Linked DNA regions of Homo sapiens. The protein of the gene in region 1 interacts with the protein of each later gene in a pairwise test. Each region holds a gene or a part of one and is shown in the gene's direction. Other genes may lie near its edges.

Region 1 (4,405 bases):
CAGAGGCCAGGTAACTGTTTCTTGGGTGTCACTGCTTCCCTGGGCTTCCAAGGATGAACAGCTATTCCTGAGGAACAGCTGTTTGGATTAAACATGGAAATGAGCCTCTAGAAGTATCTGATACCCCCCGGATACTTAGCATATACATGAAAAAGCAACTTGGGCTGGTTACTCATCGAATGTCAACTGTGCTGCTAGGAACAATGCTGGGGGGATGGGGAAGTAAGACTTTGTTTCTGAAGACAGATGATGGGAAGCTGGCTGGCTGGTTCCCTTTGGGAGGGGGGATGTGGGGGAGAAGGCATATATAGGAGGTCTTTCTTCCTCTGGTTCTGTTGGTTTCCAAGTAACATCAGAAATTCCTAGAATATCCCCTCCCAATGTGACTATCCTAAGAAATTGCTTCCCAAGTCCCAGTGATACACCTGTATGCTTAAAGGCTAATGAGACCCACTTTTTTGTCTGCCCAGAAGATAAGTAGTATAGTCAGGTCTCATACTTTTATGCTGATTGTTTTCATGCTTTTCAAGTTTTTATTAATGCCTGTGGCTGTACTCCTTATGAGTGTAGGAGAGATTTACTGTGTAAGAGAGATTTACTGTGGTGAACCCAGCTTTTTTTATACCTAGAATACTTTGGAGACTTGTAAGCCTACCATTATCTACTAAAGAATACTAATTGGGGCCAGAGGTCCGTAAAGAATGGGGATTACGTACAGATGAAAATTAGGTATTTTCAGCTCTAGTTGAGGGTACAGGGATAGGGGACAATGCAACTAGGCTGTGGTTGGGGCATCCATTCCTTGCAGTGATGGTACTCAGCCCTTGTCCCTGAGCTTGCTGCTTCCCCCCTAGGTATGCGGTGCTTTGTGGTCAGCTGGCTGAGCATGAGAGCATCCAGAGGCGCATCCAGAGTGGCTTTAGCTTCAAGGTGAGGACAGGCTTTTCCTCCTTCCTTGTGCTGGCCTATCCCAGATTCCCCACTCCTTTCCAGCTCCCTGCCAAAAACTTTTCTACAGCCTCAGTGACTTGCCTTTCTTCTTTTTTTTTGAGACAGAGTCTCACTCTATCGCCCAAGCTGGAGTGCAGTGGTGTGATCTTGGCTCACTGCAACCTCCTGGGTTCAAGCGATTCTCCTGCCTCAGCCTCCCAAGTAGCTGGGATTACAGGCATGTACCACCATGCCCGGCTAATTTTTGTATCTTTAGCACAGATGGGGTTTCACCATGTTGGCCAGGACTGGTTTCGAACTCCTGACCTCAGGTGATCCACCTGCCTCAGCTTCCCAAAGTGCAGGGATTACAGGCATGAGCCACTGCATCCGGCCCTTGCCTCTCTTTTAGCAACTCTGGTGTCTGATGTTAGTTTATATTTACATTTTCCCCTTAGGAGCATGTGGACAAAGCCATTGCTCTCCAGCCAGAAAACCCCATGGCTCACTTTCTTCTTGGCAGGTGGTGCTATCAGGTAAGCTGCGTTTCAGTGCTTGACATAATGGTCCTAAATGCCTTCTGACACCGATTTCCTTGCCAGGAAGAACAAGATCCTCAGCCTTCTCTGGCTCAGGTGCCCTTTCTTCTGAATGCTCGTATTATTGGTGGTTCGACCCAGCCCCGTTTGACCCTATTTTCAATATATCCCCAAAGATTTAAAGAAAAAAAACCTTTTAAAACCTCTTATACACACCTTGATCTTTTTGTGGCAGGTCTCTCACCTGAGCTGGCTAGAAAAAAAAACTGCTACAGCCTTGCTTGAAAGCCCTCTCAGTGCCACTGTGGAAGATGCCCTCCAGAGCTTCCTAAAGGTATGAGAGGGGCAGGTGGCAGGCAAAAACACCAGGGTAACCTTGTTTTTTCCTAAGGACATTATTGAGACCCTTAATGGGAGGGGTTTTCCTAGTCGGGGGCAATTTTGTGTTTGCCTGTTCTATGGGAAAACCAGAATCACTTGCACAGCTTATCAAAAATATAGGTTTCTTCAGACCCACTGAATCAGCCACATGGTTGGGGACTAGAAATCTAGTTTAATAAACTTCAGCCTGATTAGAATATAGGAACCTCTTACTGAAATATCTTTGTCCCTTTTCCCAGGCTGAAGAACTACAGCCAGGATTTTCCAAAGCAGGAAGGGTATATATTTCCAAGGTAAACTCATTTGTCTACTTCAACATAGATCTGGGAACTCCTGAAAGTACACAGTATCAGGTTTCACTGTTGTCTCTTTTCAGTGCTACAGAGAACTAGGGAAAAACTCTGAAGCTAGATGGTGGATGAAGTTGGCCCTGGAGCTGCCAGATGTCACGAAGGAGGTAAGGCTTTTTAATACTGCCTGTTGGGCAGATCACCTGAAGTCGGGAGTTCGAGACAGCCTGACCAACATGGAGAAACCCCATCTCTACTAAAATTACAAAATTAGTTGGGCCTAGTGGCGCACGCCTATAATTCCAGCTACTCGGGAAGCTGAGGCTGGAGAATCGCTTGAATCCGGGAGGTGGAGGTTGCAGTGAGCTCAGATCGTGCCATTGCACTCCAGCCTCGGCAACAAGAGCAAAACTCCATCTCAAAAAAAAACCAAACAAAACTGCCTGTCATCACTGAATCATCATGTGACATTTTTAGAAAATAATCTTTCCTAGAGGTCTTATTTCCCTAGTAAAAAAGAGTCTACCTCTAGGGGAAGAGACAGATTTAATAGGCTCCAGGCTATCCTGGGGAAGTAGGAAAAAGACTGTAGCAGAGCTCAGGAAGGAAGCAAAGGGCCCCTCTTCTTAGGTTCCACTGGTTTGGGAAAATGCTGGTTTAAATTTTGAGCCCTAGATTTGTTCTTTGTCTCCCTAGGATTTGGCTATCCAGAAGGACCTGGAAGAACTGGAAGTCATTTTACGAGACTAACCACGTTTCACTGGCCTTCATGACTTGATGCCACTATTTAAGGTGGGGGGGCGGGGAGGCTTTTTTCCTTAGACCTTGCTGAGATCAGGAAACCACACAAATCTGTCTCCTGGGTCTGACTGCTACCCACTACCACTCCCCATTAGTTAATTTATTCTAACCTCTAACCTAATCTAGAATTGGGGCAGTACTCATGGCTTCCGTTTCTGTTGTTCTCTCCCTTGAGTAATCTCTTAAAAAAATCAAGATTCACACCTGCCCCAGGATTACACATGGGTAGAGCCTGCAAGACCTGAGACCTTCCAATTGCTGGTGAGGTGGATGAACTTCAAAGCTATAGGAACAAAGCACATAACTTGTCACTTTAATCTTTTTCACTGACTAATAGGACTCAGTACATATAGTCTTAAGATCATACCTTACCTACCAAGGTAAAAAGAGGGATCAGAGTGGCCCACAGACATTGCTTTCTTATCACCTATCATGTGAATTCTACCTGTATTCCTGGGCTGGACCACTTGATAACTTCCAGTGTCCTGGCAGCTTTTGGAATGACAGCAGTGGTATGGGGTTTATGATGCTATAAAACAATGTCTGAAAAGTTGCCTAGAATATATTTTGTTACAAACTTGAAATAAACCAAATTTGATGTTATCAGCTCTTTATTCTTACTTGACACCTCCATAATTGTTTCTACCTACAGAGGCTGTTGCAGGCAGGTTATGGTTAATGCTCTTTACAGTATATAAAATACAGGTATCGAGCTTATTTTTAGCCTAAACAAGGCCTATTGCAACTAAGCAGGTACTCCCTGCCTTTCTCATGTTCATTTTTAGGGCCACGAGCACAAACCCCTAAATCCACCTAGAAGAAAATTTAAGACTGAGATGCATAGGCCGAGCGTGGTAGCTCATGCTTGTTGCTTGTAATCCTAGCACTCTGGGAGGCCAAGGCGGGTGGATCACTTGAGGCCAAGGGTTTGAGACCAGCCTGGCCAACATGGTGAAACCCCCATCTCTACTAAAAATACAGACAGAAAAAATTAGCTCGGTATGGTGGCGCACGCCTGTAATCTCAGCTACTAGAGAGGCTACAGCAAGAGAATCACTTGAGCCTGGGAGGCAGGGGTTGCAGTGAGCTGAGATCACACCCTTGCGCTCTAGCCTGGGCAACAAGAGCAAACCTCTGTCTCAAAAAAAAGATTGAGATGCTTTCATATAAGAACCAACCCCTTAATCTAGAATGTCACTGTGTCTTTATTATACCAACCCAGATTTTTTTTTTTTTTGCTGGAGTCTCGCTTTGTCACCCAGGCTGGAGTGCAGTGGCGCGATCTTGGCTCATTGCAACCTCCACCTCCTTGATTCAAGCAATTCCCCTGCCTCAGCCTCCCAAGTAGCTGGGATTACAGGGGCATATCACCACGCCCAGCTAATTTTTTTTGTATTTTTAGTAGAGACGGGGTTTCACCATGTTGGCCAGACTGGTCTGGAACTCCTGATCTCAGGCAATCCA
Region 2 (8,534 bases), on another chromosome or scaffold:
CTTAATCATTCTAGAAGCAGTAGGCACCCCTTTTCAGAGCACTTTTCCCAAACTAAATCTAGTTAGAGGATATCACCCTGAACCCAAGAAAATGAGACTTAAGCTAAACTTAGGAAAATGTACATAATATAATTTTAAAAATGAATTCCTCACAACACAACATAGAAGAAGAAAGAGGTACCTAGATTTGAAACCTGGCTCTGCCACTTTAAATAAAATACAAATACCTGAGAGATGACTGTGTTATGGGTAGTACATGTTAGATGCTTGTGTTAATGTGTCCCTTTCCTCTTCAAACTGAGCACATTGTGTGCGTCAGTTCAGAAGGAAGGAGCCCAGGTTCTGGAGTTAAACCCAGAAACAGGGCCAGTCTCTGAACCTCCATTTCTTTTTTTCCCTCCCCATTTCTTTCTCAGCAAAATTAAAAAGTGACTTGTGAAAAATATCCTCCATGCTCCTCTTACCAAGCCTGCAACTTAAAACCTATGGTTTAAACTGTGCTTTCAATTATCTGGAGGAGGCCAGCACTGATGAGCCCATCCTGAGCCAGTCATTTTAAGGCCAGTGCTACCTAACTGAGACAAGGCTAATCTGGTCGGTAAGTATATTCTGCTCTGTGACTATGGAATGGGGAAAAGCTAACTGACCCTTACAGAGATACCATTGATTATCCGTTTTTAGGACACTTTACATGTTGCGAGGTGATTTCCAATTTCCAGTATCAGATTGGTGTCAAAGCCTAGAAATTGTACAGCGATTAGGAGTCGACTGGGTGCCACACAATGTTTATGTACATAATTTTATGACCAAGACAAGTGATATTTGGCACCTGAGACTAGGGGGAGATTTCTCCTGTAAACGAGCACCAAAGGGCTCCATGCTATCAGGTATAGGGAGGAGTGGCAAAGGGGTGAGGTCATTGTGATCCCTTCCCTTCTCCTCCCTGAAAAAAAAACAAGTATGGTGTGTTTCCTGCAAGCCCCAGAATATGTGAGCCTTAGCTCACTCACTAAGGGAGGCTGACCCTAGGAGTGTGCATTTGTCTTAGGAAAGAAAGTGTCAGCCCATTTTGAGGTAACTCTCGAACTTCGGGCTTCCTCATCTTTGGCCTCCAAAGAATAACGTACATAAACATAAAATGCGATGCAAAATGTATGGGGTTGTATCAGGATGGCAGGAGTTTCGGTGTATATTCTGATTTTGAGACAAGAAAATCAATTCTTCTCATCTGAGGCCAGAATGGTAATTAGTTCTTGTTGAAGTGAGAGATTATTTACTCAGCTCTATTTTTTTATGTTTATGTGACCTTTCATAGTTACTCAGAACAAAATGGGGTAAGAGAATGGGGATTGTAATGTGAATCTAAAAGATGTATGTTTCCCTTTCTATATTCAAATGGATCTTATGAGATTCCCATACCTAGAAATTGACCACCAATTAGTAAAATACAGATTTATATCTAAGGCACATTCATTGTTCCTCTTGGTACTATCAGATCTCTCTATTTAATGTCCTAGACCTCAAAGAAAAGTGTTTTGGAGGAGAAAAAAAGAAAAGGAGGAATAATAACATGACCTGCTATCCAAAATGAACACAGAAGCACAGATCACTTTCCAAAATGTCCATGATTTCAGAACATAAATGCAGGCACACCCTTAAAAGAAGCATTAGAGAGGAGAAAACCTGGCCAGCTTCCCAAATCTCCCTGCATCCAATTGGACTGGGTGATGACTGAGATCAAAGGCATGTGGTGATTGGACAGAAGGCCAAGAGGAACTGGCATCCTCAAGGCTGCTGGAAATTAGCCAGCTCAAACACACCAAGCAAAAGCAAATTGGAAATAAAGACAGGCGAGTAATCAAATGCACATGGGGGCATGCTTCACAAAATGCGAACTTCATGTGTTCCCAGAGGAGAAATTGCCAGGTCTTCAACAGCACAAACTCAATAGGAAAATCAAAACATCCCCTTTTGCAACCTTAGAGCCTGAATCTTTGGCTTCCACTTTAGGGAAATGGGCAAAATGACCTCTTTGTCATAGTACACACCATGCTCCCTGCCCTCCTCCACTCCCAGACCCCTCTCCCCTAAGTAACTTTGTCTTTCATTTTGTTTCTAAAGAAAAAAAAATGAGATTTTTGCAATTTGGGGCATTCTCTCTGGAACAGCAAATGTTCCCAGCTCTGCCGTTTACAATGCCTTTGGTGGAAGGTCACCTCGGAGGTGTGATTTTTCAGTATAACATAATTTCTATGGTGCCTTGACATCCTCCAATGAAGAGCACCAATAGGACCACTCCTCTGACATTAGGGAGAGGGTCCACTCAGGCACCAAATGCCATTCTCACCACTAATCCTAATCTTCCTTGTACTCCTTTTATTACCTGCATGTTATTGGGAAAGAGGATGGTTTATGGTCCCATTCCCCTACATACACACTTTCCAACCCCATACTCCCTTAGAAATGTAGAGCAAAGATTACGAATTCTTTTCTGCAGGTTCTGATTCACAGAGGGAGAGCATCAGAATGGGGGCTTTGGATAGGAAAAACCTTGCAAATTAGTGCCTGAATAAAGATATAAAAAGAGAAAAGTGAAGGAAGATATTCTTCTCAAACTTGATGCCCTTTCTCTCTGTCTCTGTCTGTATACACACACACACACACACACACACACACACACACACACACACACACACATATATATGGGTTACATTTTCATGGAGGACAACAGAGTAAAATCCAGCAGCATTTAAGGGATTTCCTCTTGCCAAATTGTCTCCGGTCCCTTAATTGTGTTTAAGCCTTGCTGAGTACTTTGTTTACGGTCCCTAATGTGGTGATTTGCATCCCCCTGTCTGGGTTGCTCTTGGCAGGGCAGGCAGCTGTCTCAGTCTAACTCTGGCTGGGAAAGGTAAGGATCTTTGCTTTGCTTTTTGAAAGATCTGGGAAGGAAATGTTGAATGTCTATGGGGGTTAGGGGCATAGATATAATTCATGCATTGGAGGCTTTGAGAAAAGTTCTCCAAACTTAAAGGAGTCTCCTAAAGCCATGTGCTTTAGAAAGAACTAGAGAGATTTCCTCTTCTTTGTGAAAATAGAGGGCTCGCAGAAATAAGGCTGGTTGCATTGTGGATGAAATTTTGCATTTGGGGGCAGGTGTCCCCAAAGGATGCCCAGGGGTGTTTAATACTTTGTAGACACAGAGTGGAAGGAGGAATAAACATTCAGAAACAACAGGCATAGATCACTAGGAATTCTCTTTGAATTTCAATTTGAAGAGGTAAAGTCAGTTAAAGCTGCATGTGTCAGTGGTTAGGATGACAGGCTTCTATTCTTCTGATACAATGTCTGCTTTATACCAAAACTTTCTACCTCTTTGAATTTAAAATACAAATCATTGGTTGTCTACTCAGAGTCTAGAGATGTGTACCTGTGTATCAAGGCAGGTGCACACACCCTGTGGAGGAGCATTGGTGTGAATGAGGCACCTGAGCCTGACAAGGTTGAAGAAAGCTTTGGTATTGGAAGTGATGACAGATTTGTGCTCCTAGGACACAGACACACTCACTGCGCCTCATTATAGACTCAGTCAAGGGCTTACTATGAAAAAAGCTGCCATTGTCCTCTCTCTAGACGTTCAATGTTTGCACCTTTAGCTTTGGTAACAGGAAAGCATGCTTTTCAACAGAATAAGGTGATATTCAGAGCTTCAGTGCAGTTATTGGGCTATCTTGCAGGCAAAGTGGTACTAGAAAATAGAGGGGAATTGCCCTCAAGGGCCAGAGTTTGCAGGTGAGAAGACAGCTCTGTTAAGGAGCTTCTCAAGAACCTCCATTGTACGTAGCCAGCGGCCCCCATCTTACCATCTTCCGGGGGCAACTTTGGCAAGTTCTGAAATGCCCTGGTTCTAAGTATTCCTGACCCTCAACACCAAGTGACGGTACTCCTCAGATATGAAAGCTGTCTCTTTAGGTCTGACATTTTTAAAGTGTGAGGATCATGGTGACCAAGGCCTCCAGGTACTTGCCATGACTCCCCCAACCTCAGGGACTTTTCAACTTTATTTTTTATAAGGACATAACCCTCTCTCTGGCTTTCATTCCAGAATAAACAACTTCTGGTCCCTCTCTTTTTGTGACAAGTCATCAGGGTATTGCTACAAGGCAAGGCTGGAGAGAGTGTGCTGTGGTAGAGGAGAGGCGAGATGTTTGAGAACATCCAAGCCCTTTGCCAGCTATTAGAGAAATCTAACAATTTGAGAGAAAGATGGAAAACAAATCTCTTCCAAGAGTTAATTTGGATTTGTGGTTCACAGTATTAATTAGAAGAGGTTATTAACACTTGTGCAGATGAAAAAATGGAGGATGTAAACTTTTAACTACAGAGTGTAGGATGAGCTCCCAGTATTATCTTTTCTCCTCAAAAAGACAATCTTGGGCTTTATATGTTTCAAGGTTTTAAAAATTTCACAGTTTGTCTGTAAGAAAGCATAAACCTATAAAGTCACTTACAGGTTTATGGGGTGGGAAATAGATGTTTAACTTTATTGTTTAAGTATGATGTGTCAAGTTGTATATGTTTGAATGTTTAAAATACCTTGATCCTTAAAGTGGGCCAAGGAACAGAGGTCTCAACATAGGTAGGGAGCTTGTTACAGACTTACTGAATCAGAATCTAAATTTAACAATCTCCCCAAATGATATATATATCCATTAAAGATTAGGGTTCAAACCAAGGGTGTCTCTGTTACTGGGTGATCTTTGTTAAATTACTTAACCTCTCTGAGCCTGTTTCCTCATTTATGAACTAGTGAGAATTAACATTAATATGTGACATTTCTTAATATTGTGCCATGTCCACAGTAGGTGCTCTATAAATGGTAGCAATTATCATGATGATGATAATCTTGGTGCTGCTAAAGTTACCTCCTTGCAAAAGCAGTAAACAATCATGTTTAAATCAATATAACTGGCTTTCCCCCTTAACCACAAACATTTGTGCCTCCCACCCTCATTCCTAAATGAATTAACACTCAACAAGTGGGGTTTTAAGCTTCAGATGACTATCACGCACATATAAAGAATAATGGAAAACCTAGGAACATGGATTTTTGCTGGCTTAGAGACTGAATTCAGCTGCCTGATGACTTCACAGCTGTTTCTGCCACCCTAGAGTATCTGTCCCCTCGGCTCTGTCCCCTCAGCCGGGTCTGCAACGCTGACTCTGGGATTTTCTTATAAAAATGCCTGATGGACGGGAGGAAGATCTGGAGGTCGGCGGGGGAAAAAATGAGTCATTCAAATTCACAAAGCAGTCCGCTTAGTAAATGCTGCAAGAGAAAAAGTAAAAGCTGGCTCCTGTCTCTGGGGAATCTGTAGAAATGATTCGGACTCATCATGTCACTGAGCAAAGCTGGGGGAAGCCAAAACTCAGAATCTGCTGGCAAGGAAAAGAACGAAGGAAAAAAAAAAATGTTAGGGAGGGGCAAACCCGAGGGGGAGGGAATAAAAAGAGAGAGGGAGGGAAAGACAAGCGTCATTTAGGAACAGAGGTAGCCTGAAAGAAGCAGGAACTCCAGGATCCCAAACCAGAGCAGACCCTATAGTAAAGTATTTTTACATCTTTTCCTTTCCCCAGAAGAGATCCCTAACCTATTGTTTTATTGACAGCCTTGCTGTTAGAGGCTCTTTCCCAGAAGTTGGACGAAGAGGCTCAGGCGTTGCTGTTTCTTGTCTTCCAAGTCAAGTGGTTACTCTGGTAATGGATTGCCTCTCTCCGAGGTGAGTGTAAGTAATTTGGGGACAGATCTTGATTTTCAGGTTAGCTCAATCTCAGCTTTGGGGTGAAGTTATTTTTTTCAGACATAATCTCAAATATCTTTTAACTGGCCTCACCAGAAGTTAGGGTGTCATTGGACAACAGTGATTAATTAGTTTGGTGATTAAAAATGACATGTGAGTAGGCAGCTCTAAGATTTAGTTTCATTGCTCAGGGAGTGATATTTTGACTTTCCAGAGCAGGGAAGAACCAGTGAGGTTTGATTTGGAGTTGAATTTGTTTTCAGTGGATGCTTAATATATTTAAAGTATGAATCTCATTGAAATGGTCTCAAGTATCTTTCTTTAAACTTGTTCGGTAACTACAACTGCTCAACTGTGTAGCAGCTAGACAGCTTTTTGAGAATGGAAGACAGTGACTCAACCATGTCTGAGCAGCAGACAAGTTTTCACTGATTTCTCATAGACAGCATTTCAACCAGATACTTTTGATCAAAAGTCTCAAGCTTTGTCCTGAAATGTTCAGGTACGAAATACTTAGAAAGGGTCATTGCAGCAAGTTTTATACACAAAGGCATGGAGGAAAATGAAGGTTGTGAAAGTTTCCTGAAAACCTAGCATGCTTATTTGTTTCTGCATGTTGTAGTATACATAATATCGAAATTTTGTGTTGAGCTTAATAGAAAATTTGTGAATTGACAGCTAATTACTCAAATAATTGATTTTATTTTGCCAAGAGAAAGCACAAAATTATATCCTATGAAGGGGTTGAATTTTTTTTTCTTATTTTTTCTCTTTTATAGCAGATTGGAAGATATTGTTACACTTCAGACCACAAATCCCCACCTCATTTTCAATGAATTTTTTGCTGAACTGTCCACCTAAAGTGGGTAATAAAAAGATCCCAGGGAGCAGGTTGCACTGTGTTTAATAGTAACACAATAAAGATTTGTTGGCTGTCATTCAATGGAGAAGAACATCATTTGTTGCTGGCCACTTGCCTTGACATTGATTTTGTGGGCAGCCAATGGGTGATAGTTTGCAAAGAATGCATGTTATGCCCAGCAAGATTGGCGGAGTCTGAGTTGCTGTAAGTTCTGGGATTAATGGTACGAAATATTGTTTGTAATGTATTCTCCTCTTGAATGAGACCATCTTTGGATTAGGATTCAGGCATTTCTGTGTATTCAGAGGAAGGAGAAGCAATAGACAAAGCAGAAAAGCTTGTAAAACTTTTGTAGACCGCCAGGGTATATTAAACACTGTAAGTGCTTCCTGCTTTTTCTGTCTTCCCTTCATATGCATCTGCTTCATCTTATTTTTTGCCTAAATGCAAAGAGAATGCAACCAATTCAAAAAAAGAGTAAAGTTGCTTTTCACATGGATCTGTGCCTCCTAGAAAGGAGGTGCCTCCCCAGCTTTTCATTTCTGCTTACAGGGTGTACATTCTGATACATGTAGCTGACATCTCCTGTTATCTTCACAGCTTTCACCCTGGTGAGACTGTCCAGATCTAGTCTGTAAACCCAGCTTAGAAGCACTGTTGTAAAAATGACTGAAGAGCCCATCAAGGAGATCCTGGGAGCCCCAAAGGCTCACATGGCAGCGACGATGGAGAAGAGCCCCAAGAGTGAAGTTGTGATCACCACAGTCCCTCTGGTCAGTGAGATTCAGTTGATGGCTGCTACAGGGGGTACCGAGCTCTCCTGCTACCGCTGCATCATCCCCTTTGCTGTGGTTGTCTTCATCGCCGGCATCGTGGTCACCGCGGTGGCTTACAGCTTCAATTCCCATGGGTCTATTATCTCCATCTTTGGCCTGGTTGTTCTGTCATCTGGACTTTTTTTACTAGCCTCCAGTGCCTTGTGCTGGAAAGTGAGACAAAGGAGCAAGAAAGCCAAGAGACGGGAGAGTCAAACAGCTCTCGTGGCAAATCAGAGAAGCTTGTTTGCTTGAGACTGAATACGACCAAATGGGCCATTGGGCCTGGAAAACGTGCTCTGACTTTGTCACCCAATTCACCCAGAACCATGGTGGGAGAGAACAGACTTGGCGTTGGAGCAGACTGGAAGAATGGGGGTGGGAGGGTGGAGGGGCTTCTCCTTTGTGAGGAATGACTCATGTCTTCTTTAACGACAAACTTAACCCTAAGGGCTACTTCTGAGACTGAAAAATCAGCTTTCTATTTACATGAAACACTTTGGGGGTCATGGGAGTGCACAGCATTAGACAGTATTTGGTTCACCCTGTAAAGTAGCCAAGAAAAGATGAGAAAAATCAAGATAGGCCTGGCACACTAGACATTTGCCTCCAAAAGAAATAACCTACAGTCTTAAGATGTATCATAAAAATGTTCTGCCAAGGATCTAAATTACCTTGGGTTTCGCATATGTCTATGAAATTCTGTGATAATTTTTTTCAATACATTGATTCACTGGCGTCTGTTTTCATTTTATACTTTTAATAACTCATCACTGGTGGTACTTTATCTTGAAAAGTAATATTTTTTATATTTTAACATTGGACAGTGTTAGCCAGTTGTAATGATGTATCAGAAGTAAAGAAAAACCCATTAAAGTTATAGCTAATAGATGCTGTTGGGGGTTAAATTAATAGTAAAATAATCCAATATAGCACTTTTGATGATTTTTATATAAAAGTCAACTGTACATTTCATTCAGAATAATAAATACTTATTGCTGCTAAAACTTCTTAAATGGTTGTTTCTGCTATAGTTATTTCTATTGCAGTTCCAAA
Region 3 (8,583 bases), on another chromosome or scaffold:
AGGACTGAGGACAGCGGCCAGGGAGGGACTGAGGCCGCGGGAGAAACTATGGGAGGAGGGGCGGAGAAGGATGCGAGGCGTAGACCTGCAGGGTTCCCACGGACTGAGAACTGATGGGCAAGGCCAGGCGCGGTGGCTCACGCCTGCAATCCCAGCATTTTGGGAGGCCGAGGCGGGCGCATCACTTGAGGTCACGAGTTCGAGACCAACCTGGCCAACATGGTGAAACCCCGTCTCTACTAAAAGTACAAAAAATTAGCCGGACATGGCGGCTCGTGCCTGTAATCCCAGCTACTCAGGAGGCTGGGGCAGGAGAATCGCTTGAACCCGGGAGGCGGAGGTTGCAGTGAGCCGAGATCCCGCCACTGCACTCCAGCCTGGGCGACAGAGCGAGACTCCGTCTCAAAAAACAAACAAACAAACAAACAAAACTGATGGGCGGCGAGGTCCTGAAAGGGGCGGAGCCGGGAGGGCCTGTGGAGCGGTGCTGCGGAGCCCTGAGAGGTGCACGGCTGTGAGGCCTGAGAGGGGCGTGCCGTAGGGAGCTGTGATGGGCGGGGCTGAGACCTGTGAGGAGAGTGAGTGGGAAGAACTTCGAGGGGCGGGGCTTCGGGGCCGGCGAGGGGAGGGGCACGGACACCAGTACAGGACGGGGCTTCGCAGACAGCGAGCGGAGGGGCTTCCCCGTAAGGGGCGGGCTTCGAGGGTCGCGTTTGGAAGGCCTTACGAGGGGCCCGGTGGAAGGGCGGTGAAGGGCGGGCTAATCGGGAGGCGCTCAGGCCTTGAAGGCCTGCGGGAGGTCGAAATGGTCCTGGGGAGGTCGAGGCTGAGGTCTCACTAGTACCGCGGGCCTGGAAGCGGCGGGAGTTGAAAGAGCCTGCGGTGACCTGTATGGAAGCCCTCGAAGCCAGGCCGAGGTCCTACAAGACGGAGCCCGAGAGGTGCCGGTCTTAAGCTGACTGTGACCACGTTAAATTAAGGATTCATAGGAAGGAAGGCGGTGTCGAAGCCGGGAGTTGCGCGGAGAAGGAGCGCTCAACACAGCCTCAGCGGTTCACTACGCAAGCGCGACCAACGGCTTCCCGGGAAGCAGCCAAAAACGCTTGGCCGCCTACCACGTCCGCGCGCTGGAGGGCGGAAGTGGGTGAGACCTCGGGCACTCCATACCGCCCCCCGGTTTCTGGCCACGCCCCCTCTGGTTACACCCACTCGCTCTGTAAGGCACGCCCCCTCCGCGGCGGCGGCTGCTGCCCACGTGGGCCTCCCCGGGCGGGCGGGCAGTGGGCGCCTCTCCCTGCAGGCTGGGTGTGCCCGAAGCCTGCGGTTTCCTGTGGGAGGAAGCGGCCTGCGTACGCTCAGCTCAGCTCATAATCTCGGAGGCCCAGGATGGGGAGATCCCGCCGCCACCCTCAGATCCTTTGATTCTTCCCCTTCTACATAGCCATAGTGCGGGGACCCCCCTAATATCCCCAGGGTACCCAAGCCTGGCGCCGATCCCACTCAGGGAACTTGATTCTGAGTCCTAGACTCGTGTTTTTCACCTCCCCGGCTCAAGTTTCCATCTTCCTAGCCCCTGGCTCCCCCTAGTCCTCTCAAGAAAGTGGAGCCCTCTTTTCCTGCTCCCCAAGAGGAACGTATGTCTCCCCAGCCCCTAATTTTTCCTTCAGTGACCCAGACTTTGCAACTTCCTTAGGGATCTGAGTGCGGACCCCAGTTTCTGTCTCTCAGGCACTTAAGTTTGAGACTACTTATTCTCCCCCAGGGACCCTCATTTTGGATTCCCAACTTTAGCCTTGAGACCCAATGGACCCAAGAATTTGCCCCTTCCCCAACTCCTAGAGATCCTGAATCAGGGTCCCCCAGTACTGACTCCACTCAGAGCCCCAATGCCTGATATGACTAGCACTACCCTAAGAACTGCCCTATAATGTATTTACTATTATCTCTATTTTTCAGATGAAGAGACTGAGGCATAGAGAAGTTATTAGTAACTTGCCAAAAATTACACAGCCATTGAGTAAAACAGCTTGGATTTTGAGTCCAACCAGTGTGGCTCTAGAGTCTGTGCTATACTGGTATTCCAGCTTCCAGGTCTTGGGGTACCCAGCCAAGCACTGAACTGTCCATCCCTCACCCCCTCAGGGAGCCCGAATCACCAACAGCTATCCCAAACCCAGCTCTGGCCCATCAGATACCCAGACATCCCATCATCCAGTTCCCTTCCCTGGATCCAGGATTTGAATTCCCCTGCTCTCAATTTATCAGAGTTCTGGGCACCTGGTCCCCTCCCAAGAGACTCGTGTACATAGTAGTCATCACCCCGACCCTAATTTAATATCCCCAAAATTAATAATAATAGTTAACAGTAAACCTTTGGGGCCAGGCACAGTGTCTTACGCCTGTAATCCCATCATTTTGGGAGGCCAAGGCAGGCAGATCACTGGAGGTCAGGAGTTCGAGGCCAGCCTGGCCAACATGGAGAAACCCCCGTCTCTACTAAAAATACAAAAATTGGCTGGGCGTGGTGGCGGGCACCTGTAATCCCAGCTACTCAGGAGGCTGAGGCAGGAGAATCGCTTGAACCGGGAGGTGGAGGTTGCAGTGAGCTGAGATCATGCCACTGCACTCCAGCCTGGATGACAGAGCAAGACTCCATCTCAAAAAAAAAATAAAAATCTTTGGTACTACACTCTGTTAAAACCTAATGGCTTTCCACTGCACTTAGAATGAAATCCAAGCCCCTCCCCTAGTCTTCAAGGGCACCCTTTGATTTCCCTTCTCACCACTCCCTCTGTCTCCCTGTGCTCCAGCCACACTGGCCCTTCTGTCTGCTCCCTAAACAACCTGAGCTTGTTCTCAAAAGCTTTAAGAGCTTTTGCACTTCCTCTCCCCCCGACGCCCCCCCACCACTCCCCAACCCCAGCGTTCAAATGACTCCTGTCTTCAGCTCAAATGTTACCTCCTCCAAGAGGCCTTCCCTGATTTTCCTGTTTCAAGTAGTCTTCCCTGCACTCTGTCATTATCTCCATCACTCTGTTTGATTTATTATTGTATTTATTTTTCTTTTCTTCTTTTATTTTTTTTTTTCTTTAAGATGGAGTCTTGCTCTGTCACCCAGGATGGAGTGCAGTAGCGTGATTTCAGCTTACTGCAACCTCCGCCTCCCGGGTTCAAGCAATTCTCCTGTCTCAGCCTCCTGAGTAGCTGGGTTACAGGCGCCCACTACCATGCCTGGCTAATTTTTGTATTTTTAGTAGAGACAGGGTTTCACCATGTTGGCCAGGCTGGTCTTGAACTCTCGACCTCAGGTGATCCTCCAGCCTTGGCCTCCCAAAGTGCTGAGATTACAGGCATGAGCCACCACGTCCAGCCTATTGTATTTATTTTTCAAGTCACTTATCCTTATCTGAGATTTATCTTCATCATTGATGTTTTCTCTTGTCTGTCTTCCTCTACTAGAATACAAGCTCCATAATACCAGCAGGGCTCATGTCTGTTTTCATTATTAACTCCCAGATCAGAGTACATGTTCAATAAATGTTTGATGAAGGAAGGAACAGGTTAGGTGTGTGAGTGTGCCAGTATTACCTTATTCATTCAGCATAAGTATCAGAATTATTATTATCAGTATTAGTATTTTGTCAGCATTATTATACTCTCAACATAGACTAAGATACTGGAGCCCAGGTGGGTGAAATAATTGGCTCAAGGTCACTGAACCAGGAAATGATGGCGCTGGGATTCTTAGCTTCCGCTTCCTCCCCGCTTCCAGAGTTTCACAAGGTTTTTTTTTTTGTTTGTTTGTTTTTTGTTTTGTTTTGTTTTTTTTTTGCGACAGAATCTCACTTTGTCCCCCAGGTTGGAAGGCAGTGGTGCAAACTCAACTCACTGCAGCCTCCACCTCTCGCGTTCAAGCGATTCTCATGGCTCAGCCTCCCAAGTAGCTGGGATTACAGTCGCCCGCCACCACGCCCGGCTAATTTTTGTATTTTTGATAGAGACGGGTTTCCACCATGTTGGCCAGGCTGGTCTCGAACTCCTGACCTCAGATGATCTGCCCGTCTCGGCCTCCCAAAGTGCTGGGATTACAGGCGTGAGCCACAACGCCCTGCCGAGTTTCACAAATTTCATCTCCCATCCTCTGACCCCCCACCACGGGGCCAACTTCACCAGCCCAATCTCAAGTCCATGCCACAGAAATCTGGCCTCTTTTCCCAGACTCCTATCCAGCTCCAAGCTCCATCAGGGAAAGCAGACATCCGGCCCCAGGGCAAGACCTCAAAACTCAAGGGTCCTGAGAATCGGGCCCTCCCACCCCTGACGCTTGCCCCCCCCAAGAACCCCATTCCAAGAGTTTCTCATCTCAACCCTGGGAGGGAGCCCCAGATGATGTCTGTCTGGAGGGATTGGGTGGGGGCCCAAAGAAAGAGGAACCGGAGTGCCTGGGCCCTCCCACTGGCAGCCGACCTCAGCTGGGTGCGGTGAGGGTGGGTTTATAAAAGGGTCAGTATATATTGAGAGGAGGAGAGAAAGAGAAACGGGAGCAAGAGAGAAGGAGGCCCAGACAGTGAGGGCAGGAGGGAGAGAAGAGACGCAGAAGGAGAGCGAGCGAGAGAGAAAGGGTTCTGGATTGGAGGGGAGAGCAAGGGAGGGAGGAAGGCGGTGAGAGAGGCGGGGGCCTCGGGAGGGTGAAAGGAGGGAGGAGAAGGGCGGGGCACGGAGGCCCGAGCGAGGGACAAGACTCCGACTCCAGCTCTGACTTTTTTCGCGGCTCTCGGTAAGTTTCCAGTCCGTTATTCAGGGCTGGGACTTCTTAATTTACTTGGGAATGTAGCAGTTTGGGAAGGACACCCCCAGGCTGGGAGAGACGTCCCTGACTCTTGGAAATCCTTTTAATTTAATAAGTGATCTCTTAGCACTTGAGGTGGGGATATGGGAAGGGGTGGGGCCCGGCAAAGTTTTGGGGTCCCAGCAGAGCCCTCCACTGGAAAACTTCCTGCAGTTTTTCCCTCAGCGGTGTCCACTGTCCTCTGGGGTCCCTGAGATCAGGGCATTGCATGAGAACACCCCAAATCTGGGAGACCTCTAGGTCCCCTGTTCCTGGGCACCAAAGAGTCCTGGGAGGCTAACTCCTTCTTGGGCCTCTCTTCCCCCCAGCGCGAATCCTATCCATTTCCTCCAGAAGATGTCCAACAGTCACCAGTCTGGCAGCAGGGTGGGGTGAGGACCTCGTGGACATAGCCAGGGGCTGGGGTTTCCCTGGTGCTTAGAGATGGGGGGGGGTGGGGATGAGTCACCAGATGACTCACCAGGTCCCCCTCCTCCCCTCAACCCAGGAGAGGAGTGGTGTGAGTCAAGAATGCCTGTTGCTGGGGGCAGCTCCTCAATCCTGATGTCGGGGTGCAGGGTGGGGTCTCAACTTGAATTTTCACTATCTGGCCTGTATGTAACCCAGAGTCAGGGTTCTGGGGAGAGAGGAGCCACATTGCTAGTCCTCCTCATTCAAGGAACCCAAGAGTCCATCTTTGGCCCTCTCCACCCCTCCAGCCAATGGGGATCTCAGGAATCCAGGCCCCAGCGGTCTCCTCCCTGAGAGACCCAGGAGTCTGCACCCATGCCCTTCCTCCATCAGGAGACATCTCACCTGCCTTTATGCCAAATTTTTTTTTTTTTTTGAGACGGAGTCTTTCTCTGTCACCCAGGCTGGAGTGCAATGGCATGATCTTGGCTCATTGCAACCTTTGCCTCCTGGATTCCAGTGATTCTCCTGCCTCAGCCTCCCGAGTAGCTGGGATTACAGGTGTGCACCACCACACCCAGCTAATTTTGTATTTTTAGTAGAGATGGGGTTTCACCATGTTGGCCAGGCTGGTCTCGATCTCCTGACCTCAGGTGATCCTCCCGCCTCGGCCTCCCAAAGTGCTGGGGTTATAGGCGTGAGTGTGCCTGGCCTGTGCCAACCTCTTGAGACTCCGTCCCCTGCTCCCCCTCCCCAGGCTTCCACTGCAGCCATGTCACTCCTCTTGCTGGTGGTCTCAGCCCTTCACATCCTCATTCTTATACTGCTTTTCGTGGCCACTTTGGACAAGGTAAGCCTACTTGGAGCTCAGGGCCCTTCTGTTCCCCTTTGGAATCTTGCCACGCCCCTCCTCTAAAGGCATTCTGGCCCCACCCCCTTTACCTAGTATTTCTTTTTTATTTTATTTCATTTATTTTGAGACAAGGGTCTCACTCTGTCCCCCAGGCTGGAGTGCAGTGGTGCGATCTCGGCTCACTGCAACCTCGGCCTCCCGGGTTCAAGCGATTCTCCTGTCTCAGCCCCCCAAGTAGCTGGGATTAGAGGCACCTGCCACCAAGCCCGGCTAATTTTTTTATTTTGGTAGAGACGGGGTTTCACCATGTTGCCCAGGCTGGTCTCGAACCCCTGGCCTCAAGTGATCCACCTGCCTCGGCCTCCCACAGTGCTGGGATTACAGGCATGAACCACCAGGTTAACCCTTTTAGCTCTACCTCCGATGCCTCCTCCCTGTCCTGACCCTACCCCCTCTCATATTAAATCCTAACTCTCCCCAGTTCTGCCCCATCCCAGATACCCTGCCCTTTTCCCAGCCCTTCCCACAGTCTGCCTGACCCTATCCCCTCTCCTTTCCTAACCCTGCCCCTTGTTTCGTTCTCTGTCCATCCCAGTCCTGGTGGACTCTCCCTGGGAAAGAGTCCCTGAATCTCTGGTACGACTGCACGTGGAACAACGACACCAAAACATGGGCCTGCAGTAATGTCAGCGAGAATGGTGAGGGGTGAGGGCGGCGGGACTGGTCTTCAAAGGGGAAGGTAAACCCTTCGTGTCCTCATGGGACTGAGAATTGGGAACCCTCCCCCAACAAAGTTGGAGTGGGCGGGGTCCAGGCCTGAGTGGCTGAGTGCCTAGGGCTAATGCATGTCCCGCCTGTCTGGATGTACCTACCTCTTGTTTTTTTTGTTTTTGTTTTTTGAGACCGAGTTTTCCTCTGGTTGCCCAGGCTGGAGTGCAGTGGCGCAATCTTGGCTCACTGCAACCTCTCCCTCCGGGGTCCGAGCAATTCTCCTGCCTCAGCCTCCCGAGTAGCTGGGACTGCAGGTGTGTGCCACCACGCCTGGCTAATTTTGCATTTTTAGTAGAGACAGGTTTCACCATGTTGGCCAGGCTGGTCTTGAACTTCTGACTTCAGCTAATCCACCTGCTTCAGCCTCCCAAAGTGCTGAGATTACAGGCGTGAGCCACCACATCCAGCCAGTACCTCCTGTTCTGAAGAGGCCATATAGATAAAAGCATGCTATAGGTTTAAAGAATAGAGAGGGGAGGCCAAGGCGGGTAGATCACGAGGCCAGGAGTTCGAGACCAGCCTGGCCAAGATGATGAAACCCCGTCTCTACTAAAAATACAAAAAAATTAGCCGGGCATGGTGGCGTGCGCCTGTAGTCCCAGCTACTTGGGAGGCTGAGGCAGAAGAATCGCTTGAACCCAGGAGGTGGAGGTTGCAGTGAGCTGAGATTGCACTACTGCACTCCAGCCTGGGCAACAGAGCAAGATTCTGTCTCAAAAAAAAAAAAAAAAAAAAAGAATAGAGAAAAATCTCCCAAGATTCTGAGAAGACAAGAGTATTTTTCCAAAGCTCTAAGGAGATGGGGCTGGTGCTCTGAATGGATGCCTGGGACCATTTCATCCAAATTCCAAGGGGATGGGGCTGAAACCACTTAAGGTTCTAAAGGGGTGGGGCCAGGTGCATTGGAGTTCTAAAGGAATAGAGCTGCATCTATCTAAAGTTCTGTGTGAAAGATTTAATGCAAAACTAAGATTAAAGGAAGTGGTCTGCTCTCACCACTTCTATTCAACCTTTTACTGGAGTAGCCAATGCAAGAAGGCAAGAAAAAGAAATAAAGGGCATGGGAAATAAATTAGGAAAAAGTGTCTCTATTCCCAGTAAACATGTTGTTTATGTAGAAAATCCATTAAAATTCTGCAAAGCAGACAGACACAGTGGCTCACACCTGTAATCCCAGCACCTTGGGAGGCTGAGGAGGAAGGATCACTTAAGCCCAGGAGTTCAAGACCAGCCTGGACAACATAGGGAAACCCTGTCTCTACAAAAATTTAAAAATTACCCAGGTTGTGGTGGCTTGTGCCTGTGGTCCCAGCTACTCAGGAGGCAGGGGTGAGAGAATTTCTTGAGCCCTGAAGGACGAGGCTGCAGTGAGCCATGATTATACCACTGCACTCCAGCTTGGGCAACAGAGCAAGACCTGGTTTCAGAAAAAAAAGAAAAAGGAAATTGGCAAAGCAACTACTAGAACTGAGAAGGGAATATAGCAAGGTAACAGGGCTCAAGGTCAAAATAAGTGATACATCTAAGTATCTAGGCTTGTATGGGCCTAAACGGGAGCAGGGATGGGGCAGAGAAGGGTCACATGGTGAGCAAGCAGGTGAAGCTGGAACTCTGGACCCACGGTGATGTCCCCCTCTGTGTCCTCCTTACTGCAGGCTGGCTGAAGGCGGTGCAGGTCCTCATGGTGCTCTCCCTCATTCTCTGCTGTCTCTCCTTCATC
Region 4 (9,266 bases), on another chromosome or scaffold:
CCAAAAGAACTAAGCTGGAGGCATCACACTACCTGACTTCAAACTATACTACAAGGCTACAGTAACCAAAACAGCATGGTACCGGTACCAAAACAGAGATATAGATCAATGGAACAGAACAGAGCCCTCAGAAATAACGCCGCTTATCTACAACCATCTGATCTTTGACAAACCTGAGAAAAACAAGCAATGGGGAAAGGATTCCCTATTTAATAAATGGTGCTGGGAAAACTGGCAAGACATATGTAGAAAGCTGAAACTGGATCCCTTCCTTACACCTTATACAAAAATCAATTCAAGATGGATTAAAGACTTAAACATTAGACCTAAAACCATAAAAACCCTAGAAGAAAACCTAGGCTTTACCATTCAGGACATAGGCATGGGCAAGGACTTCATGTCTAAAACACCAAAAGCAATGGCAACAAAAGCCAAAATTGACAAATGGGATCTAATTAAACTAAAGAGCTTCTGCACAGCAAAAGAAACTACCATCAGAGTGAACAGGCAACCTACAGAATGGGAGAAAATTTTTGCAACCTACTCATCTGACAAAGGGCTAATATCCAGAATCCACAATGAACTCAAACAAATTTACAAGAAAAAAACAAACAACCCCGTCAAAAAGTGGGCGAAGGATATGAACAGACACTTCTCAAAAGAAGGCATTTATGCAGCCAAAAAACACATGAAAAAATGCTCATCATCACTGGCCATCAGAGAAATGCAAATCAAAACCACAATGAGATACCATCTCACACCAGTTACAATGGCGATCATTAAAAAGTCAGGAAACAACAGGTGCTGGAGAGGATGTGGAGAAATAGGAACACTTTTACACTGTTGGTGGGACTGTAAACTAGTTCAACCATTGTGGAAGTCAGTGTGGTGATTCCTCAGGGATCTAGAACTAGAAATACCATTTGACCCAGCCATCCCATTACTGGGTATATACCCAAAGGACTATAAATCATGCTGCTATAAAGACACATGTACACGTATGTTTATTGCGGCATTATTCACAATAGCAAAGACTTGGAACCAACCCAAATGTCCAACAACAATAGACTGGATTAAGAAAATGTGGCACATATACACCATGGAATACTATGCAGCCATAAAAAATGATGAGTTCATGTCCTTTGTAGGGACATGGATGAAATTGGAAATCATCATTCTCAGTAAACTATCGCAAGAACAAAAAACCAAACACCGCATATTCTCACTCATAGGTGGGAATTGAACAATGAGAACACATGGACACAGTAAGGGGAACATCACACTCTGGGGACTGTTGTGGGGTGGGGGGAGTGGGGAGAGATAGCGTTGGGAGATATACCTAATGCTAGATGACGAGTTAGTGGGTGCAGCGCACCAGCATGGCACATGTATACATATGTAACTAACCTGCACATTGTGCACATGTACCCTAAAACTTAAAGTATAATAACAATAAACAAAATAATAATAATAATGAGCTATTTATGACAAACCTATAGCCAATATCATACTGACTGTGCAAAAGCTGGAAGCACTCCCTTTGAAAACTGGCACAAGACAAAGATGCCCTCTCTCACCACTCCTATTCAACATAGTATTGGAAGTTCTGGCCAAGGCAATCAGGCAAGAGAAAGAAACAAAGGATATACAAATAGGAAGTGAGGAAGTCAAATTGTCTCTGTTTGCAGGTGACATGATTGTATATTTAGAAAACCCCATTGTCTCAGCCCTAAAACTCCTTAAGCTCATGAGTAACTTCAGCAAAGTCTCAGGATACAAAATCAATGTGCAAAAATCACAAGCATTCCTATACACCAATAACAGACAAACAGAGAGCCAAATCATGAGTGAATTCCCATTCACAATTGCTACAAAGTATATTAAATACCTAGGAATACAGCTTACAAGGGATGTGAACAACCTCTTCAAGGAGAACTATAAACCACTGCTCAAGGAAATAAGAGAGGACATAAACAAATGGAAAAACATTCCATGCTCATGGATAGGAAGAATCAACATTGTGAAAATGGCCATACTGCCCAAAGTAATTCATAGATTCAATGCTATTCCCATCAAGCTACCATTGACTTTCTTCACAGAACAAGAAAAAACTACTTTAAATTTCATATAGAACCAAAGAAGAGACTGTATAGCCAAGACAATCCTAAGCAAAAAGATCAAGATCAAAGCTGGTGGCATCACACTACCTGACTTCAAACTATACTACAAGGCTACAGTAACCAAAACAGCATGGTACTGGTACCAAAACAGATATATAGACCAATGGAACAAAACAGAGGCCTCAGAAATAACACTACACATATACAACCATCTGATCTCCAACAAATCTGACCAAAACAAGCAATGGGGAAAGGATTCCCTATTTAACAAGTGGCGCTGGGAAAACTGGCTAGCCATATGCAGAAAACTGAAACTGGACCCCTTCCTCACACCTTACGCCTTATACAAAAAATAACTCAAGATGTATTAAAGACTTAAATGTCAAACCTAAAGCCATAAAAACCGTAGAAGAAAACCTAGGCAATACCCTTCAAGACATAGGCATGGTAAAGACTTCATGACTAAAACACCAAAAGCAATTGCAAGAAAAGCCAAAACTGACAAATGGGATCTAATTAAACTAAAGAGCTTCTGCACAGCAAAAGAAACTATTATCAGAGTGAACAGACAACCTACAGAATGGGAGAAAATTTTTGCAATCTATCCATGTGACAAAGTCTAATATCCAGAATCTACAAAGAACTTAAACAAATTTACAAGAAAAAAAACAAACAACCCTATCAAAAATTGGGTGAAGGATATGAACAGACACTTCTCAAAAGAAGACATTTATGTGACAAACATATAAAAAAAACCTCATCATCACTGGTCATTAGAGAAATGCAAATCAAAACCACAATGAGATACCGTCTCACACCAGTTAGAGTGGCGATCATTAAAAAGTCAGGAAACAGATGCTGGAGAGGATGTGGAGAAATAGGAATGCTTTTACACTGTTGGTGGGAGTGTAAAGTAGTTCAACCATTGTGGAAAACAGTGTGGCAATTCCTCAAGGATCTAAAACCAGAAATACCATTTGACCCAGCAATCCCATTACTGGGTATATACCCAAAGGATTATAAATTATTCTGCTATAAAGACACATGCATATATATGTTTATTACAGCACTGTTCACAATAGCAAAGACTTGGAACCAACCCAAATGCCCATCAGTGATAGACTGGATAAAGAAAGTGTGGCCCATATATACCATGGAATACTATGCAGCCATAAAAAGTATGAGTTCATGTCCTTTGTAGGGACATGGATGAAGCTGGAAACCATCATTCTCAGGAAACTAACACAGGAACAGAAAACCGAACACTGCATGTTCTCACTCATAAGTGGGAGTTGAACAATGAGAACACATGGACACAGGGAGGGGAACATCACACATGGGGGCCTGTCGGGGGTTGGGGAGGCAAGTGGAGGGAGAGCATTGGGACAAATACCTTAAAACCTAGATGACAGGTTGATGGGTGCAGCAGACCACCATGGCAAATGTATACCTATGTAACAAACCTGCATGTTCTGCACATGTATCCCAGAATGTAAAGTACATTAAATAAAAATTTTTAAGTATGCAGCTCCTTCCCATTCTCTCTTGCTCCTACTCCAGCCATGAGATGTGTGTGCTTCCCCTCTGGCTTCTGCCATGATTGTAAGTTTCCTGAGGCCTCCCCAGAAGCCAAGGAGATGCCAGCATCATGCTCCCTGTACAGGCTGTGGAACCGTGAGCCAATTAAATCTCTTTTCTTTATAAATTACCCAATCTCGGGTATTTCTTTAAAGCAGCGTGAGGACGGACTAATACATTTTCTTCACTGCATTTATAAGGATACGGAAGAAAACAATGAACATGCAAAGACTGGAAAGAGAGGAAGGAAGCATTAATACAGGGTACAAAAGGAAGCCGGAGTTCTAGATATAATTCTGAGACTCAAGTGTAGTCAGGGTCTGAGCTTCACCTGGGTTTCCACAACTGATAGTAAGTATCAATGAATAATAATAGGCAACAAAGCCCAGAGACAGTGAGACATAATCAAGAGCTAATAGAAATGTAGAGGAAAATAAAGACAGAAACGGTTACTTTTCAATAGGAAGAAGATCCCAGAAAGCACCAGTAGGAAAGTGGAAATGTGGGACGGGAAGGGATAGTAGCCAATGCAAGTTGCATTAATGAGCACATTACCACTGTATACGGTGATGAGGATGTTCCCACTGCAGACAACTGGGTCTCAGTCCTGCTGGGGACTCAGCAATTTGTATGCAGTACATCACAGAGTTGTCTCACGTGGTGGACAACTTGATAAGTTGTGGTGTTTATCCATAAGTCCTAACTGACATTGATTGAAATCTGCTCCTAGGATATCAGCTCTGACAACTTCAGGCTGCTGCATGCATTACCTACATATACTTTTGTAGTCAGATAAACCCTCTGACAGAGAGTTATGAGTGGCTGAAGTAAGACATCATACACATGCATGGAAACAATAAATGGCCCGGAGCTGTTGAAGAGGCTCTGAAAGCGTCTTTATGAAAGGTACACGTCAAGTATCAAAGACTTATTCAAAGCTGATCTATGTGGCTTGGGCTAGGATGAGGCTAGTGAGAAGCCCTAGGCACCTCACTCTTAAGAAAACACTCACTCCCAGGGTCACCCACCTACAAGATCTGCACTTGGGTGACCTGAGAGTGAGTGCCTCCTTAAGCTGTGTGCTCTAGATGCCCCACCTGCCTCACAATAGCCCCAGCCCTGCCGGTCTACTGGGAGAATGACAGGCTCCCTGTTTCAGCAATGATGAATGGAAACAGTGGACATGTCAGATATCCAGGAGACTCTGTGCCCCCAAAAAGATGGGAAACAGTAAAAGCTGGGTCTCTTCCCTACCAGAAAAAAAGTGGTCTGGCATGAAAGAGGTTAAAAAGCAGATCCTATCCAGTAGGGTAAGACTCGGGTTATTGTCTTCCCCATATACTCCAGAAAGCCAACTCCAGAAAGTTTAAATGAGTTAGGTGAGGTCCTATAGCTGGTTAATGACCTAACCAGATATGCAGCCTGCTCCTCTGTAGCCTTCTTACCACCCAGTGATTCGCTTTTTTGCTGACCTCATGATGCTCTTGAGAGAAGATAGAATAACTAGAACTGGTGATACCAACATAGACGACTAGACTAAAGCCTCCTAATAAGGCTAAATTGAAGATAGTGCGAAGGTGTTCATCCTCAACATACCAGTTCACCCTCAAGTCCTTCAATAGCTGGGAAAGCCCTCCTCTCTCAGAGAATGATAAGACTTTGCCTTCAGGTTTTTCTGGCAGACTGGATCTGGGGCTGGCACTGGCCACATGAATGTCTAATTAATGGACAGATGATGAGAACAGCTATTACGTTATTTGTTCCGGGGCAGGAGACTCTCTGGGCCTATTTTATATGGGGAAATGTCCCTATAGGGCAAAGGCAACTGAAGATTAGCTCAGTAATCAATTTTAGAAGTACAGTCAGGCCTCAGAGACTACAACATCCCTCCCTTCTTAGAGCATGGCAAGATATTTGACATCATGAGGCCCTGCTGGAGACACATAACCTCAGTCACAGCAGAAAGTAGAGTCGGTAGGAGAAGTATTGCCAACCCACAGCTCAATGGGAAATGTTTCTGTCTCTTTAAACCATAACCATGGGGCCCACCCTGAGCTTCCTGATTTCTGAAGTCTGAGTGATTTCCTCCGTGTGCCGAGAGGAAACAGCCTTCTGCACTCACAGCCGAAGGGAAAGCAGCAGGTTGGGGCTTCTTGTGGCCAACTTCAGAGCCTGTCACCAGGAAAGGTGAGCCTGAGCCTGGGAGTGGCGGGGGCTGGGGGTGCTCTGAGAACCAGAAAGAACATGATTCCTAGAGTGTTTACTGCCTGAACACTTGCATTCTACAAGGCATCATGCAGGCGAGCAAGATCTGGAACAATCAAGGACATACTTCCAGGTTTTTAAGTAGGCAAAGTTCAGAGGAAATTTTAGGATCATCTTCTCCAGCTCTGGAGCACACACGTTCTTGGTGGGGAGTGAAATCTGTCTCCTCCCACATTCCCTTAACAAAGTAAGAAAAGAGTGTGCTGGAACCACCTCCAGGAATAAAATACAGTTTGAAAGGCATTAAACATTCCTCAAGCTCCCTATTGAGCAAAGGCAAAAGATATTTCTATGGCCCCATAAGCCATCTAACCTCGGAGTGAGTTACGACGTGACAAGACTGGGTACATTTGAACTCTCCTCCTCACTGTCCACAGAAGGGGCCCCTGAGGAGACATCTGAGATTAATATCTTGGTCTTCAACCCCTTTCCCTGCATGGCCCCTTAAACATCTGCTCCCTTAATTCAAGCTTCTCCTGCTCCAGCCACGGGGACACCTCAAATTCCCATCTGTACAATAAAGGGGGTTGCAAAAATGACTGATGTCCAAGTTCTGAGCTGTGGACATCAGAAACATTTAATTCATGAATCAGAATCTCAGGATGGATCCAAGAGATGTACATTTTTAAAGAACATTCAAGTAATTCTGAGAAGCAGCACATTTGAGCGGTGAAGAACTCAATAAACTTTGCGGTCTCTTAAAGTGTTAGGAATACAGGATTCTATAAGTGTACATTCCTCAATGATTAAGGGCCATTTGTCACCTCAGAGTTCAGCTGGGTCTTACTTTCCTTTAAAAAAAAAAACTATTTAAAATCATTTCAACCCCTCTTCTAAACTATGGAAAATTCCAAAGGCCTATCCAGAATTCTGCAGCACTGGAAAAAGAAATTCTCATTTTCTTGGTTGACAAGGACATTTTGCTTCATCTAAATTCTTTTCTCTGAATCTTGCAACTGTTTCTTCATTTCTGCTTTGATGTCATTTATGATCATCTGTTCATTCCTACATGCAAAATAATTAATCACATAAGGCCCATGGAGTGAATTTTATTGAAGGCTTTGGGGAGGGCCAGTAGAGTTCCTGCAGAAACAGAAACAGCTCTAGATTTAATATGAGGCAAATCTGTTCTCCAAGTCCTTCAATCAAAGACAAGTTACTCAGCCAGCCTCTCTCTCTGCCCCTCCTTCATGTGTGGTGCCAATGGGAGAGAACACAGGTATCCAAGTGACCAGGGTGCAAGACACAACAAGTTTGACATGGATGGTGAGGCACAGACAGATGGTCGGGGAGGATCAATAGTCCTAGGAGGGGAAGCCGAGTGGGTTGGAAAGGCCCTGAAATCTGCTGATTGTGAAGTAGCTGACCGAGTGGGGTATTGTCTGGGAATGAGGCTGGAGACATAGATGCAGGGAGAAGTGAATTTGTGTTCAGGAGCTTGTGTGATTAGGCAAACTGGATCACAGAGGGTTTAGCTGTATTACACAATGTTAGATTTCAGCATAATCACATTTGGAGGGGAAGCAACTTCAGGAGTTGAAGGGAAGTGTTCAAGTCTCTCCAGCACAGATATCGTATTTAGACATCTCTAAACAAACCAAATTATTTGATTTTAAGAAAACAGAGTTAGGGGCCCTCCAGATCTACTTGGGAGATCTGTTCAATTTCCAAAAGAAAAATCCCAATTTTCTTCTTTCTTCCCAGGTCAGCCACTTGAAGGTGGGTGCCTAAGTCACTGGGCACATTTTCTGGTTCTGAGGGTTTACCTAATCTTCCCCCAGCTGCTGAATCCCCTGATATCTCTAGCTTATGTCAGTGATATAGAATCACCCAGGGAAAAGTAATACCTAAAGCCCATTGGCATTGAGTAAATGTTATAACCGACCCTCTGCTTTTTGCTTTTGGAGTTCCTGAAAAGACAAATCTAGCCTCACCCAATGTTCTCACAGCATCCTACCAACTCAAGGGCAGGGTGTTGGCCCTTCCAAGGCCATTCTCTCAAGTTCCGATATAATCCTTACTTAAAGAAGGATTAGCACAATGTATTATATTTGACGAAATTTACCTGTCTTCTCTCTAGCCACGTGCCCTTCTGCCAAGACATACACCTAGATTTTTAGATCCTTGCAAGCAAAAACCATGTCTTTTCACTGTGCTGTCACCAGCTCTTTGGACTTTGCCTGACACCCTGTAGGTGGTTATGCCTATTTGTGGTTATGCCTATTTGAGGAATAAATAAATGAATTAACAAATTGTGTTTGGGACTCTTCCAGGTAAGCATGGGAGGAAGGAAGATGGCGACAGATGAAGAAAATGTCTATGGTAAGACCATATCTCTACACCTCATACTTGCCCCCCTAGGCTTGAACTTAGGGTAATAAGGAGAATGGGGCTTCCTCAAGACTGAACAGAGATAAGTTCCAGAGGTGTCTCAACTCTGGGATGAAACAGCACCAGCCCTGAGATCTGCATTTTAGCTGGATCTCTGCTGTGAGAAGTTAAGTTCTGTGACTAGCCTGCTCCCTTGGTTCCACAGTATAAAATAAGGATAATAAACCTACTCCGATCACCGCAGAAGAAGTGCAGAGGGGATTAAATCATGCACTACAGTGAACATGATTTGTGAGGTAGAATGTTTAGAGAACAAGGATAGAGGGTTAAAACATATATTCTTTTTAGGCAGCCAGTTTAAGAGAGAGATAAGAGAGGAAGGAGAGAAAGAGGGAGAGAAAGAGAGAAGAAGGAAAGAGGGCTTATTTCACCCCCTCAACAGGCCTCTGAGAAACAGGCCCCTATTATCGCTCCCACTTTTGCCGAAGAGGCTTAATACTTAGATTATGCAGCTTCCCCAAGGTTACACAACCAGCACGTGGTGGGGCTGTGATTCAAACCAGGGTATCTGGGACTCCACACAGCTCTTCACTACCAGGCAGTATTGCCCCCACTGCCTGTCTCTGGGGATGGTCTCTGGGAGAATATTTCAGAGTCCATCGAAATTTTCAAATATGAAATAAATATGTCTGCATGTGTGTGGATGACCAGAAATGTCAGATGAACTATTGGGCTGGACTGATAAAGAAGCATTTCTATGATAATCAACTGTAGTTGGAGCATCTACTGGTGCAGGCAGACAACCCAAATACAAAAGGAAAAGGTGGAAATGAACGCCCAGGCGTTCAAATCTCTATTCTTAACCACTTATGCTAAAGGCAAGAAGATTCCAGTTCCCAAGGGGAAGTTGGTTAAACTTAAGTAAGATTATAACACTTGGTCTCACAGGTTTAGAAGAGAACGCTCAGTCCC

Evidence for each region.
Region 2: the proteins of RMDN3 (region 1) and TMEM100 interact in binary tests that used the Homo sapiens proteins (3 or more experiments, as listed by UniProt).
Region 3: the proteins of RMDN3 (region 1) and EMP3 interact in binary tests that used the Homo sapiens proteins (3 or more experiments, as listed by UniProt).
Region 4: the proteins of RMDN3 (region 1) and GIMAP1 interact in binary tests that used the Homo sapiens proteins (3 or more experiments, as listed by UniProt).

What each region holds. Positions count from the first base shown.
Region 1 is NC_000015.10:40,735,026-40,739,430, reverse strand, and holds the end of RMDN3 (regulator of microtubule dynamics protein 3), read left to right. Parts: intron 1-854; coding exon 855-930; intron 931-1,388; coding exon 1,389-1,466; intron 1,467-1,704; coding exon 1,705-1,803; intron 1,804-2,089; coding exon 2,090-2,143; intron 2,144-2,226; coding exon 2,227-2,307; intron 2,308-2,836; coding exon 2,837-2,890; 3' UTR 2,891-3,544; downstream 3,545-4,405.
Region 2 is NC_000017.11:55,719,865-55,728,398, reverse strand, and holds the start of TMEM100 (transmembrane protein 100), read left to right. Parts: upstream 1-5,534; 5' UTR 5,535-5,780; exon of another isoform or gene 5,781-5,786; intron 5,787-7,263; 5' UTR 7,264-7,328; coding exon 7,329-7,733; 3' UTR 7,734-8,534. UniProt on the Homo sapiens protein: Plays a role during embryonic arterial endothelium differentiation and vascular morphogenesis through the ACVRL1 receptor-dependent signaling pathway upon stimulation by bone morphogenetic proteins, such as GDF2/BMP9 and BMP10.
Region 3 is NC_000019.10:48,320,834-48,329,416, forward strand, and holds the start of EMP3 (epithelial membrane protein 3), read left to right. Parts: upstream 1-4,718; 5' UTR 4,719-4,777; intron 4,778-5,157; exon of another isoform or gene 5,158-5,220; intron 5,221-5,996; 5' UTR 5,997-6,011; coding exon 6,012-6,089; intron 6,090-6,687; coding exon 6,688-6,790; intron 6,791-8,518; coding exon 8,519-8,583. UniProt on the Homo sapiens protein: Probably involved in cell proliferation and cell-cell interactions.
Region 4 is NC_000007.14:150,710,806-150,720,071, forward strand, and holds the start of GIMAP1 (GTPase IMAP family member 1), read left to right. Parts: upstream 1-5,807; 5' UTR 5,808-5,885; intron 5,886-8,236; 5' UTR 8,237-8,242; coding exon 8,243-8,285; intron 8,286-9,242; coding exon 9,243-9,266. Other genes in the region: GIMAP1-GIMAP5 protein, read left to right, coding at 8,243-8,285, 9,243-9,266. UniProt on the Homo sapiens protein: May regulate lymphocyte survival. Required for normal levels of mature T-lymphocytes and mature B-cells.